Linked DNA regions of Homo sapiens. The protein of the gene in region 1 interacts with the protein of each later gene in a pairwise test. Each region holds a gene or a part of one and is shown in the gene's direction. Other genes may lie near its edges.

What was found.
Region 2: the proteins of XRN2 (region 1) and PSMA3 interact in a two-hybrid assay, tested with the Homo sapiens proteins (one large-scale study listed by BioGRID and IntAct).
Region 3: the proteins of XRN2 (region 1) and DISC1 interact in binary tests that used the Homo sapiens proteins (3 or more experiments, as listed by UniProt).

What each region holds. Positions count from the first base shown.
Region 1 is NC_000020.11:21,327,322-21,330,972, forward strand, and holds part of XRN2 (5'-3' exoribonuclease 2), read left to right. Parts: intron 1-1,237; coding exon 1,238-1,349; intron 1,350-3,159; coding exon 3,160-3,218; intron 3,219-3,294; coding exon 3,295-3,384; intron 3,385-3,651. UniProt on the Homo sapiens protein: Possesses 5'->3' exoribonuclease activity. May promote the termination of transcription by RNA polymerase II.
Region 2 is NC_000014.9:58,247,692-58,251,342, forward strand, and holds part of PSMA3 (proteasome subunit alpha type-3), read left to right. Parts: intron 1-58; coding exon 59-141; intron 142-3,651. UniProt on the Homo sapiens protein: Component of the 20S core proteasome complex involved in the proteolytic degradation of most intracellular proteins. This complex plays numerous essential roles within the cell by associating with different regulatory particles.
Region 3 is NC_000001.11:231,692,653-231,696,303, forward strand, and holds part of DISC1 (disrupted in schizophrenia 1 protein), read left to right. Parts: intron 1-1,173; coding exon 1,174-2,153; intron 2,154-3,651. UniProt on the Homo sapiens protein: Involved in the regulation of multiple aspects of embryonic and adult neurogenesis. Required for neural progenitor proliferation in the ventrical/subventrical zone during embryonic brain development and in the adult dentate gyrus of the hippocampus.

The sequences.
Region 1 (3,651 bases):
AAACTCTATTAGGGGGGTAAGGTAAGATATAACTCTAAATTTATTTAGCTATCTGCAAGTAGATTCTTTTAATTTTAGTGCATCCTAGCGGCTAATGGGATGATTTTGGAAATTCAGAGAACTTTGAATCCAAGAAGATTAACTTTTCTGTGAGATTCGTCTTACTCAGTGAAAAACCTTAGCTACCTGATAACTTGCTAAGTTGCAGTTAGAATGGAGTAAAGAGTAAAAAGAAAAGGAATATGTCTTGTTTAGAGCACATTTCAGTTTATATTCAGCTAATTTTTTTTGAAGAAATCTTTAGCTTTACTCCAGTGTGTTCTTTCTGCTACATCAAGTATAAAATATGTACACATTTATATGCATGTGTGTGTACATGTTTATACACACATTTTTTTGTTTATATATAAATGTAGATACAGAACTTTGTACTTGAGAGGGCTTCATTAGATGGTCTCATTCTACAGAAAAGGGAATTGTTTAAAGAGAATATTAAATAACTTACATTTAGATGTAAACAGGATATTTCACAGTTTCTTCCCACCCCAAAACTCAGTTCAGTAACTTCGAAAATCTTACAATCTAGTTCACTTTATTTGGGCTTTTCCACTGAAATTGCATTTGGTTAGAGTGATTTAAAAGTACTTCTGGTTAAGGCATTATTTCTTTCTAACTGCTATGCCTTATTGAAAAGACAGAAAAATTATAAACCTTATTGTGGGAAATAGAAGTGCACCGAGATTCTTCACATAAAGAAATAGTTTTCTGTTGCTTTTATGAGACATTGTGGATCCCATTTGGACACCATTCTTCCTTTTAGGTGTGGACATAGAGAATGTCTTCCTGATCTTAGTTCAGTAGTAACTGCTCATCAGATGTTGGCTGGGTCTTTTGAGTAAAGTGAGCTTTCTTTCTTGGGTGCCCTGAATCAAGCACCCTAACCGAGGGGAACTGGTGTTAGACTGGGAGGGCTTGAAGTATAAGTGCTAGGGCTTCATAGGATGTTTGTCCATTTGACGTGGCACTCATTCACCTGATTGAGCTCAGCTTTTGGGTTCTCGGTCCAAATTTAAGTTCTCAGCATCTGGTATCTGTCATGAAAGGATTATTAGACACATTACTTACCTTTCTTCCATTTTAGTGTACTGCTTTTATAAGAACAACTGATTCAAAATAAGGTACAGATTTATTTGTGAATATTTTGATGAGTGTTATGGAATATGAAATACATTTTCAGGCACCACGTGCTAAAATGAACCAGCAGCGTTCAAGGAGGTTCAGGGCATCAAAAGAAGGAATGGAAGCAGCAGTCGAGAAGCAGCGAGTCAGGGAAGAAATATTGGCAAAAGGTAAAGAATATGCATCTTGAAGTTGGATTTTTTCATAAGATGTATGCAGAATGAGGGGGTGGTGGCAACTTTTTCTTACAAAGAGGCAAGCTTTTAATTTAATAAGGATCCCAGAATATCCAGTGTTCACTGTTGAGGAAAAGTAGTTCATGAAATCTACCAATAGGCTTAATAGGCTTGTTTATTTTCAAACTCTCCAGTAAGAGGGAGCCTTGGGAATAGGGAATTCTGGTGGAGATTGCAGATTGTCAACTCCTCTCAGGGCCAGTGCAGCTCTTTAACAAACTTTTATGTCTCTGTAGAATAGAAATATAGTAAGTATTTTTTACTACTTTTCTCTGTGGCGGCTGTCAGAAAGCTATAGTGCTGTAAACATTTTCCTCAAATCAGCTTTGGTTTGCTTGCTTTTTGAAACTCAGAGGTCTATCTGAGGAAGCCGGAGGTGATTCGATCCACATTTACAGGCTGTTGCCAAGTCATTTGCATACTTTCAATATAGGTTGATGGAGCAGGCACAGTACTTATGGTTCCTTCAAGTTTGGAGGGGTTAGGGTGGGATGTCTTCATTTTTGCAGTTCCCCAAAGCCTTAAAATTCCTGGTGGCTACATGGGTAGGAACTGACTAAGCCTCAGAGAAAAGGAAGATCAGGGAGTGTTGATGCCAGTTGGGACTGGTTCTCTCCTACCACACCTGTGTGTGAGGTAGGGTATGGTTGTAGCAGGTTTGTTTGGTGTTCTGCTACTTAAGGGGGTATAATAGACCAGAAAAGCCACAGTGTCTTGGCTCCGGATAATTGCACTCTGCAGTTGAAAAAGGATGCCATAGTATAGCCAGCTCAGGCCTGCAATTACAATAAATTTTATATTACTTGAATTTTGCTGGAAGTGTACAAGTATATAGTTCCTTTAGCTGCAACTTGTAATTAAGACTCTAAAACCTGTTTGTATTTATAACAATGTTTCTGATTTTAAGAATGTCTTTTTTTTGAAGATGTGATGAAATATACTTGTTTCTTGAGAAGCAGCTAATAGTGATAGAGAGGAAAAAATAGGATTTTTATATTCCTCTACCTGATAATTGTATTTCTTATCCTGTAAAGCTGTGATGAACTCGGCATTTTAAATTTCATTTTTCTTAGGCACCTTTATTTTAGGAACTGTTATCAAAAAATATGGCCTCTAACTGGTGTGTGTGTGTGTGTGTGTGTGTGTGTGTGTGTGTGTGTGTATTCTCTTACAGAGTGAAGAACTTCATAATTTTTATGTAACAATATAATATCTTTTGTGTACCATATATTGTTTTACAGTCTTATTAAAACATAATTTAAAAGGCTGAGCACGATGGCTCACCCCTGTAATCCCAGCATTTTGGGAGGCCGAGGACGGCAGATGACTGGAGGTCAGGAGTTCAAGACCAGCCTGGCCAACACAATGAAACTGCGTCTCTACTAAAAATACAAAAATTAGCCAGGCGTGGTGGCAGGCGCCTGTAATCCCAGCTTCTCAGGAGGCTGAGACAGGAGAATCGCTTGAACCCCGGAAGGCGGAGGTTGCAGTGAGCCGAGATTGCACCACTGCACTCCAGCCTGGGTGACAGAATGAGACTCTGTCTCAAATAATAATAATAATAATAATTTAAATTTGAGAGATGGAATCTTATTTTCTTCCCAGTGAGGGAACATTTTTCCTCGGATGACGAGACTTCACTTTCTTTTGTAGTGGAACTTTTTGTTTTTGTTGTTCTGGCTTAATGTTGAGTAATTTATCTCACTTTTTATGGGGAGAACAAAACGTTGCCTCTTTTCTCTAGGTGGCTTTCTTCCTCCAGAAGAAATAAAAGAAAGATTTGACAGCAACTGTATTACACCAGTAAGTAGTCTCATACTTTGCTAGCTATTGCTAACTCTTAAATGATAGGTTAATTTATTTCTTTCTATCATTTTAGGGAACTGAATTCATGGACAATCTTGCTAAATGCCTTCGCTATTACATAGCTGATCGTTTAAATAATGACCCTGGGTGGAAAAATTTGACAGTAAGTTTCACATTTTGATACTTCAGAAAGATTAGGGTGATCATTCGAGGCTGTACTTTGATATGACTGACATTATTTATCCTTCTGCCCTGCCCCATAAAATGCTAGTTGACTGTTGGAAGAAAGAAAAGCTTCCAGGGTTTTTGGAGATGGGGTATCCTTGCATGGTTAGGTTTTAGATAGCTGAATTTTCTCTTAAAGCCAATTTTGTCCTCTTACCATCACTATGAAGCTATAAAATGGGATTCATAATTTAAAAAATATATA
Region 2 (3,651 bases), on another chromosome or scaffold:
AACTGTATGGTCATTACTGCCAAAGATACAAGCTTACTGTTGCCCTTTTCTCCTTAAGTATGACCTGTCAGCCTCTACATTCTCTCCTGACGGAAGAGTTTTTCAAGTTGAATATGCTATGAAGGCTGTGGAAAATAGTAGGTAAGAAACATTTAACCAGGTATTACATGTCTCCTTTTATTTTATATATTTTTGGCGATTAGGCTTTGTTATGTTACTTTGGTACAAATTAGTATATGTCCCCAAATCTCAATTTATTCATTTCCAGATCTCTTTCTAGGCCAGATGCTTTCCATGAGCCCCAGTCCTATATTTCTCGTTGATTCCAGGATTATCCACTTAGATTTTCCATGTTGCAGAGTGTATAAATCACATTCATTATCATCTTTTTGTTTTCCATTTTCAAATTCTTGATTTGTATCATAGGCTTCCTCAGCCATTAGGTTTGTGACCTTGTTATTTTTTATTTCTCATACATCTTGTGTTTTAAATGTCTTATGCAATTAGTCACATGTTCGATTCAGCAAAGATTTTTTCTATGTCTGTTTCTGTTTTGAGACCTGAGTCTCACTCTGTCACCTAGGCTAGAGTGCAGTGGCACGATCTTGGCTCACTGCAACCTCCGCCTCCTGGGTTCAAGTGATTCTCTTGCCTCAGCCTCCCCAGTAGCTGGGATTACAGGCATGTGCCACCATGCCCGGATAATTTTTGCATTTTTAGTAGAGACGGGGTTTTGCCACGTTGGCCAGGCTGGTCTCAAACCCCTGGCCTCAAGTGATCCGCTCACCTCGGACTCCCAGAGAGTAGCCCCAGTCCTATATTTCTCGTTGATTACAAAGAGCTGGGATTATAGGCGTGAGTCACTGTGGCCAGCCTAAATACGATTTTAAAAAGTCAGATTTATGCAAATATGAGGAAATATCTTTAAAAAATTGAAACCTTAAAAACGAATGTGTTTTTTCCTGAATGAAGAAAAAATGCAGCCGGGCGTGGTGGCTCACGCCTGTAATCCCAGCACTTTGGGAGGCTGAGGCGGGCGGATCACCTGAGGTCAGGAGTTTGAGACCAGCCTGGCCAACATGGTAAAACCCTGTCTCTACTAAAAAATAACAAAATACAAAAATTAGCCGGGTGTGATGGCACACGTCGTAGTTTCAGCTACTTGGGAGGCTGAGGCAGGAGAATCACTTGAACCTGGCAGGTGGACGTTGCAGTGAGCCAAGATTGCACCACTGCACTCCAGCCTAAGCAACAGAGACTCTGTCTCAGAAAAAGCTAGGATTTTAAAAATGAGACGTAGTTTCACTCTTGTTGCCCAGGCTGGAGTGCAATGGCACAATGTTGGCTCACCGCAACCTCTGCCTCCCAGGTTCAAGCAATTCTCTCAGCCTCCCAAGTAGCTGGGATTACAGACATGCACCACCATGGCCCGCTAATTTTGTATTTTTAGTAGAGACAGGGTTTCTCCATGTTGGTCAGGCTGGTCTCGAACTCCTGACCTCAGGTGATCCGCCTGCCTCAGCCTCCCAAAGTGCTGGGATTACAGGCATGAGCCACGGCGCCCGGCCTAAAAGTTCTTCTTTTTAAAGATGTATTAACCTGTCCTTTGATACTACACCCAAAGTGAACAAATGCTAGTTTCTTATTTTAAAAAAAAATGTTTATTTATTTTAAAAAAGAGGCATGGTCTCACTCACTATGTTGCCTCGGCTGGTCTTGAACTTTTGGGCTCAAGTAATCCTCCTGCCTTGGCCTCCCAAAGTGATGGGATTACAGGTGTGAGTCACTGCGCCTGGCTTATTATTCCTTTTTTTTAAAAAAAACTTTTTTTGGGGGCAGGACATAGGATCTCGCTTTGTCACCCAGGCTGGAGTGCAGTGGTGTGATTACAGCTTACTGCAGACTCGACCTCCTGGTCTCGAGCTATTCTCCTCCCTCAGCCCCACAAGGTAGTTGGGACTACAGGCATGTGCCACCACGCCTGGCAAATTTTTTGTAGAGACAGGGTTTCACCATGTGGCCCAGGCTGGTCTCAAACTCCTGAGCCCAAGTGATCCGCCTGCTTAGGCTTCCCAAAGTGCTGGTATTATAGGTGTGAGCCACCGCACCCAGCCGAAGTCTTTGAATTCTTATGAAAATAATTTTGACCTCGAAGACTGCCTGAAAGGATTTCAGAGATTTCCAGATTTTCAAGAATGTTTTAAACAGTGTGGAAGATGTTGAGTTGAGATAATTAAGACAGGCTTCCTGCTGGGCGTGAGCCACGCCTGTAATCCTAGCACTTTGGGAGGCTGAGGCAGGTGTATTGCTTGAGCTCAGGAGTTCGAGACCAGCCTGGGCAACATGGTGAAATCCCGTCTCTACTGAAAATACAAAAAATTAGCCGGGCATGGCAGTGCGCGCCTGTAATCCCAGCTACTTGGGAGGTTGAGACAGGAGAATCACTTGAACCCGGGAGATGGAGGTTGCAGTGAGCCAAGATCACGCCACTGTACTCCAGCTGGGGCAACAGAGCGAGACTCCATCTCCAAAAAAAAAAAAAAAATAGGGACAGAGTTTCAAAATGTTGGCCTGGCTGGTCTTGAACTCCTGGCCTCAGGCAAGCCTTTCACTTGGGCCTTCCAAAGTCCTGAGGTTACATTCTGACCTGTACTGCTTGAGTTCAACTAAGTTTGCAAACCTTTTGGGGAAATTCATTTAAATAGGCAGTAGTGAAGAGGAAATGTATTCTAGCATCCAGGATAACCTCAAAGACATGGAATCAAAAATGAACATGAGGTTTTTGAAGGTTGACAGTGAGGTAACCAGTAGAGTACAGAATTTATAACAGGAAATTGAATATGCTCAGGGGGTTCTGCCAGACCCTTAGGAGTTTAAACTTGCAAGGGGAGCCATGGAAGACACCTAAAGTGTTGGGGAAGGAGTGTCAGAAATTCTTAGAAAATTTGTTGTGTGCATCTGTTGTTCATTTTTCTGGGAGGAAATGCCATAGTTTCATCAGATTTTAAGAGGCCTGTGAATAACACAATTCCCCTGCTTTTTAGATTGTGGATCCCTTTTTAGATTCTGACTATGGCAAAATGAAACACAGCTAGGAATTAGGCTGGTCTTAGATTAAACGGATTAGAGAAGTAGAAAAGATGGTGTAGTAATCTAGGCCTGAAATTATAAGGATCCCAATGCTGGTATAATTATTGTAAAGAAGTGGACATGAAGGAAATTTTGAAGAAAAAAATTAATAGTAAATAGAAGCTCAACATGGAGGATGTAGAGCTTGGTGATGCTATTATCCAAAACAGAGAAGTTGTGCCGGTAGTCCCAGCTACTGAGGCTGAGGTGAGAGGATTACTTGAGCCTCAGACTTCAATTCAATCTTGGGCAGCATGGCAAGACTCCATTTCTTTAAAATTAAAAAAAAGAAGAAAGAGAAAGTTGAGATAATTTTACCAGAAAACTGTACAATCAAGCATTGCTTATTTTGTCTCTATTGTTTCCGATCAGAACTACCTTTATCAAAAAGGAATAGAAGAATAAAGTGTAACACATTTTCATCTTGAAATGGCAACAAGTAATTTCTCCACATTTTACTTGAGGTTGTGTGTGTGTGTGTTTGAGACAGGGTCTCACTCTGTTGCACAGACTGGTGTGCAG
Region 3 (3,651 bases), on another chromosome or scaffold:
TGTGCCTAGTGCTGCCTAGTTTTACTTTCATGCCTGATTTGCAATGTGGCAGGGTCCTGAGATGAGAGCTCTGTGTGGGCCAGTAGAGTCAAGAGACTTTGTCCTGGTCACTTGGCTACTTGCAGGGGGTTCTGGAAAGTCAAGTTCTCTGAATCTCAGTTGCCTTTAATATAAAAGGAAAGCTATAGTTTCGGGTCGGATTGATTCACATGGTTTTGGTCGGGAGTGAATGAAATTAATGTAAATTAAAACACATTATGAGTAGCAAAGTGCTATGCAATCTAAAAATAATAACATTTTAATCACTCTTATCATCATATGTGCCAGGCACTGTTCTAAGCTGTCTACAAATAGTAACTCATTTAGTTGAATGCTCACAACCACCTTATGAGAGAGCTACTGTTAATATCACCACTTTACTGATGGGGAAACTGAGGCACAGAGAGGTTAAGTAACTTGTGGAAGGTCACACAACCAGCAAGTGGTACAATCAGGGTTTGAACCAGTCAATGAGGAGTCAGCATTTGTTATTGTTCCTATTCCTATAGCATAGCTGGGAAGGGAATGCAATGCTGGTTTGGAGAACACATCAAGCAGGCCTCCTGTCATCCACTGAGTGAGATGAGATGATGGCCATACATTGCGGCACAGCCAGCTATCCATGGTCTGCAGCAACAGATCAGTCTTGCAGGGACATGGATAGCTCCGCTAGTGAACATTCACATGTTCAACGAATAGCTAGAGTAAATAGTTGGATCTCATTTAGAGGCATGCTCTGGCATTCCTCTTTCACGTCATTTGCTTTCCAGGCCCACTCCAGGATGAGAGTACTGAGGTGCCATAAAAGACCAACAGGCAAGATGTTGGAGGGTTCAGGAGCTGCCAAGGTTGTGTTCATGCTGACCTGTTGGCATAGCGTACAGCAGTGCCAGCTGCTCTGCTAAACCGAGGAGCTGAGATGCTGTGTTGATTTCTACATGTTCCAGGCAAATACTTCCTGAGGATTGTCAGGATTTACATAATGGATTGGCCCTGGGACCACTGAGCCAGCATCTATCTTTGACAGGTGTACTGAGAGATGACCTTTAAACCTAGGGATGTTCTCCAGATGCAGTTCCAGCTGGGCCAGTAAGATCTGCATGTTTATGGTGCTGTTTTTTCTTTTCTTCCCAGGCAGCCGGGATTGCTTACCACCTGCAGCGTGCTTTCGGAGGCGGCGGCTGGCACGGAGGCCGGGCTACATGAGAAGCTCGACAGGGCCTGGGATCGGGTTCCTTTCCCCAGCAGTGGGCACACTGTTCCGGTTCCCAGGAGGGGTGTCTGGCGAGGAGTCCCACCACTCGGAGTCCAGGGCCAGACAGTGTGGCCTTGACTCGAGAGGCCTCTTGGTCCGGAGCCCTGTTTCCAAGAGTGCAGCAGCCCCTACTGTGACCTCTGTGAGAGGAACCTCGGCGCACTTTGGGATTCAGCTCAGAGGTGGCACCAGATTGCCTGACAGGCTTAGCTGGCCGTGTGGCCCTGGGAGTGCTGGGTGGCAGCAAGAGTTTGCAGCCATGGATAGTTCTGAGACCCTGGACGCCAGCTGGGAGGCAGCCTGCAGCGATGGAGCAAGGCGTGTCCGGGCAGCAGGCTCTCTGCCATCAGCAGAGTTGAGTAGCAACAGCTGCAGCCCTGGCTGTGGCCCTGAGGTCCCCCCAACCCCTCCTGGCTCTCACAGTGCCTTTACCTCAAGCTTTAGCTTTATTCGGCTCTCGCTTGGCTCTGCCGGGGAACGTGGAGAAGCAGAAGGCTGCCCACCATCCAGAGAGGCTGAGTCCCATTGCCAGAGCCCCCAGGAGATGGGAGCCAAAGCTGCCAGCTTGGACGGGCCTCACGAGGACCCGCGATGTCTCTCTCGGCCCTTCAGTCTCTTGGCTACACGGGTCTCTGCAGACTTGGCCCAGGCCGCAAGGAACAGCTCCAGGCCAGAGCGTGACATGCATTCTTTACCAGACATGGACCCTGGCTCCTCCAGTTCTCTGGATCCCTCACTGGCTGGCTGTGGTGGTGATGGGAGCAGCGGCTCAGGGGATGCCCACTCTTGGGACACCCTGCTCAGGAAATGGGAGCCAGTGCTGCGGGACTGCCTGCTGAGAAACCGGAGGCAGATGGAGGTCAGTGTCTCTTCCACCTCTGTGGCCCGAGATTGTCGTGAGCTCAGATTAGCACTGGGCAGACGGCAGGAAACGAGGGGTTCTGGGCTCAACTGACTTCCTCCTGGAAGCTGCAGCAGCTCCTTTTGGAGCCGGCTGCACAGGATGTTGCTGCACTTCTGTCTCTTTGAATTGGACACAGATCTACTCTCCTTTTTGTCTTCTCTGTCACTTAGGTGCTCAGATTTGCTCTCCATTGGGCCGCAGGCTCCTCTGCAGGCCCCGGCTTAGGTGAGACGTGGTTCATGCAGCCCAGCTCTGCTTTGAGACAGGAAACTGGGGGCAGGGGAGATTGAGCTGGGTGATGTTTGGAAGGACTTGAGAGATACAAAAATGGGGATGCCCTCTATCAGGGCGATCCTGCTCTTCATCCGCTTCACTCATTCCCTTCCATCCTGCTGCAGTGGCTGCTGCCTTCCACAGGGTCGGGAGACTTCGCTTCTGGTCATTGAACCTCTTTGGCTCTCAGTTTCCGTATTTAGAGATAACACCAACTCATAGGATTGTTCTAAGGCTCAAATGAGAATGTAGCTGCTTTGGAAATAAGTACAAACTGGAGACATCTAAGGCCCAGCCTTATGATGATGCTGTCCATCCAGTTATCTGAGAGGTGGGTATAGCCGGAAGTAGGTAGGGTTCCTCTACCCACAAAAGTTCCCAGAGAAGCCCAGGTAGAGATGCTCTGTGGCTCATCTGTTGCCAGACTGTATTTTAATCCTGGTGTGTGTGTGCATATGTGTTTGTGTGTGTATGTGTGTGCATGTAGGTGTGCCTGTGTGTGCGTGTGTGTGTGTGCATGTTTGTGCTGTGTGTTCATGTGTGTGTGTGCATGCATGTGCGAGTGTATTTGTGTGTGTGCACTCATGTGTTTCTGCGTGTGGTGTGTGGATATGTTCATGTGGGTAGGGAAGTGGAGCACCCACTCATCAGGCATTTGGGAGGAGTAATCTGCAGAAGTTCATGCTCATTCCCCGAAAGAGCATCTCCCATCTGTTCTTTATCTATAGTCTGATGTTTCTAGCCCTGTCCCTGTTTGCCCTGTTTCAGCCCTCAGGGACCTCAGCCCAGCCCTCTGATTTATTATGCAGAGAGGGAGTGAGGTCAGAGCACAGATGCAGGCTTGTATTCTGGGTGATGTGTGGAGTCTTCCAGTTAGTCATTGCCTAAACCAGTGCCCCTTGTCTTTCCCCGAAACCCGTTCTGAAGGGCCTCCAATATTGGTTGATTTGAATGCATAGAATCTATCCAGTTTCTTAGGCCAGAAACCACAACCATCTTCCACACCTCCCTCTCCCTTGTTCCACATCTGGCTGGCCTCCAAGCCCTCTCAGTCCTACTGCTAATCTGTCTCTCATCACCATGGCCGCTGCCCTGGCTCAGATCCTTGTTATCTTTCACCTGGGTTTTGCAAGAGGGTCTACCTTCCTGCGGTGTTTCTCTTCTCCAGTTAATTAAACTA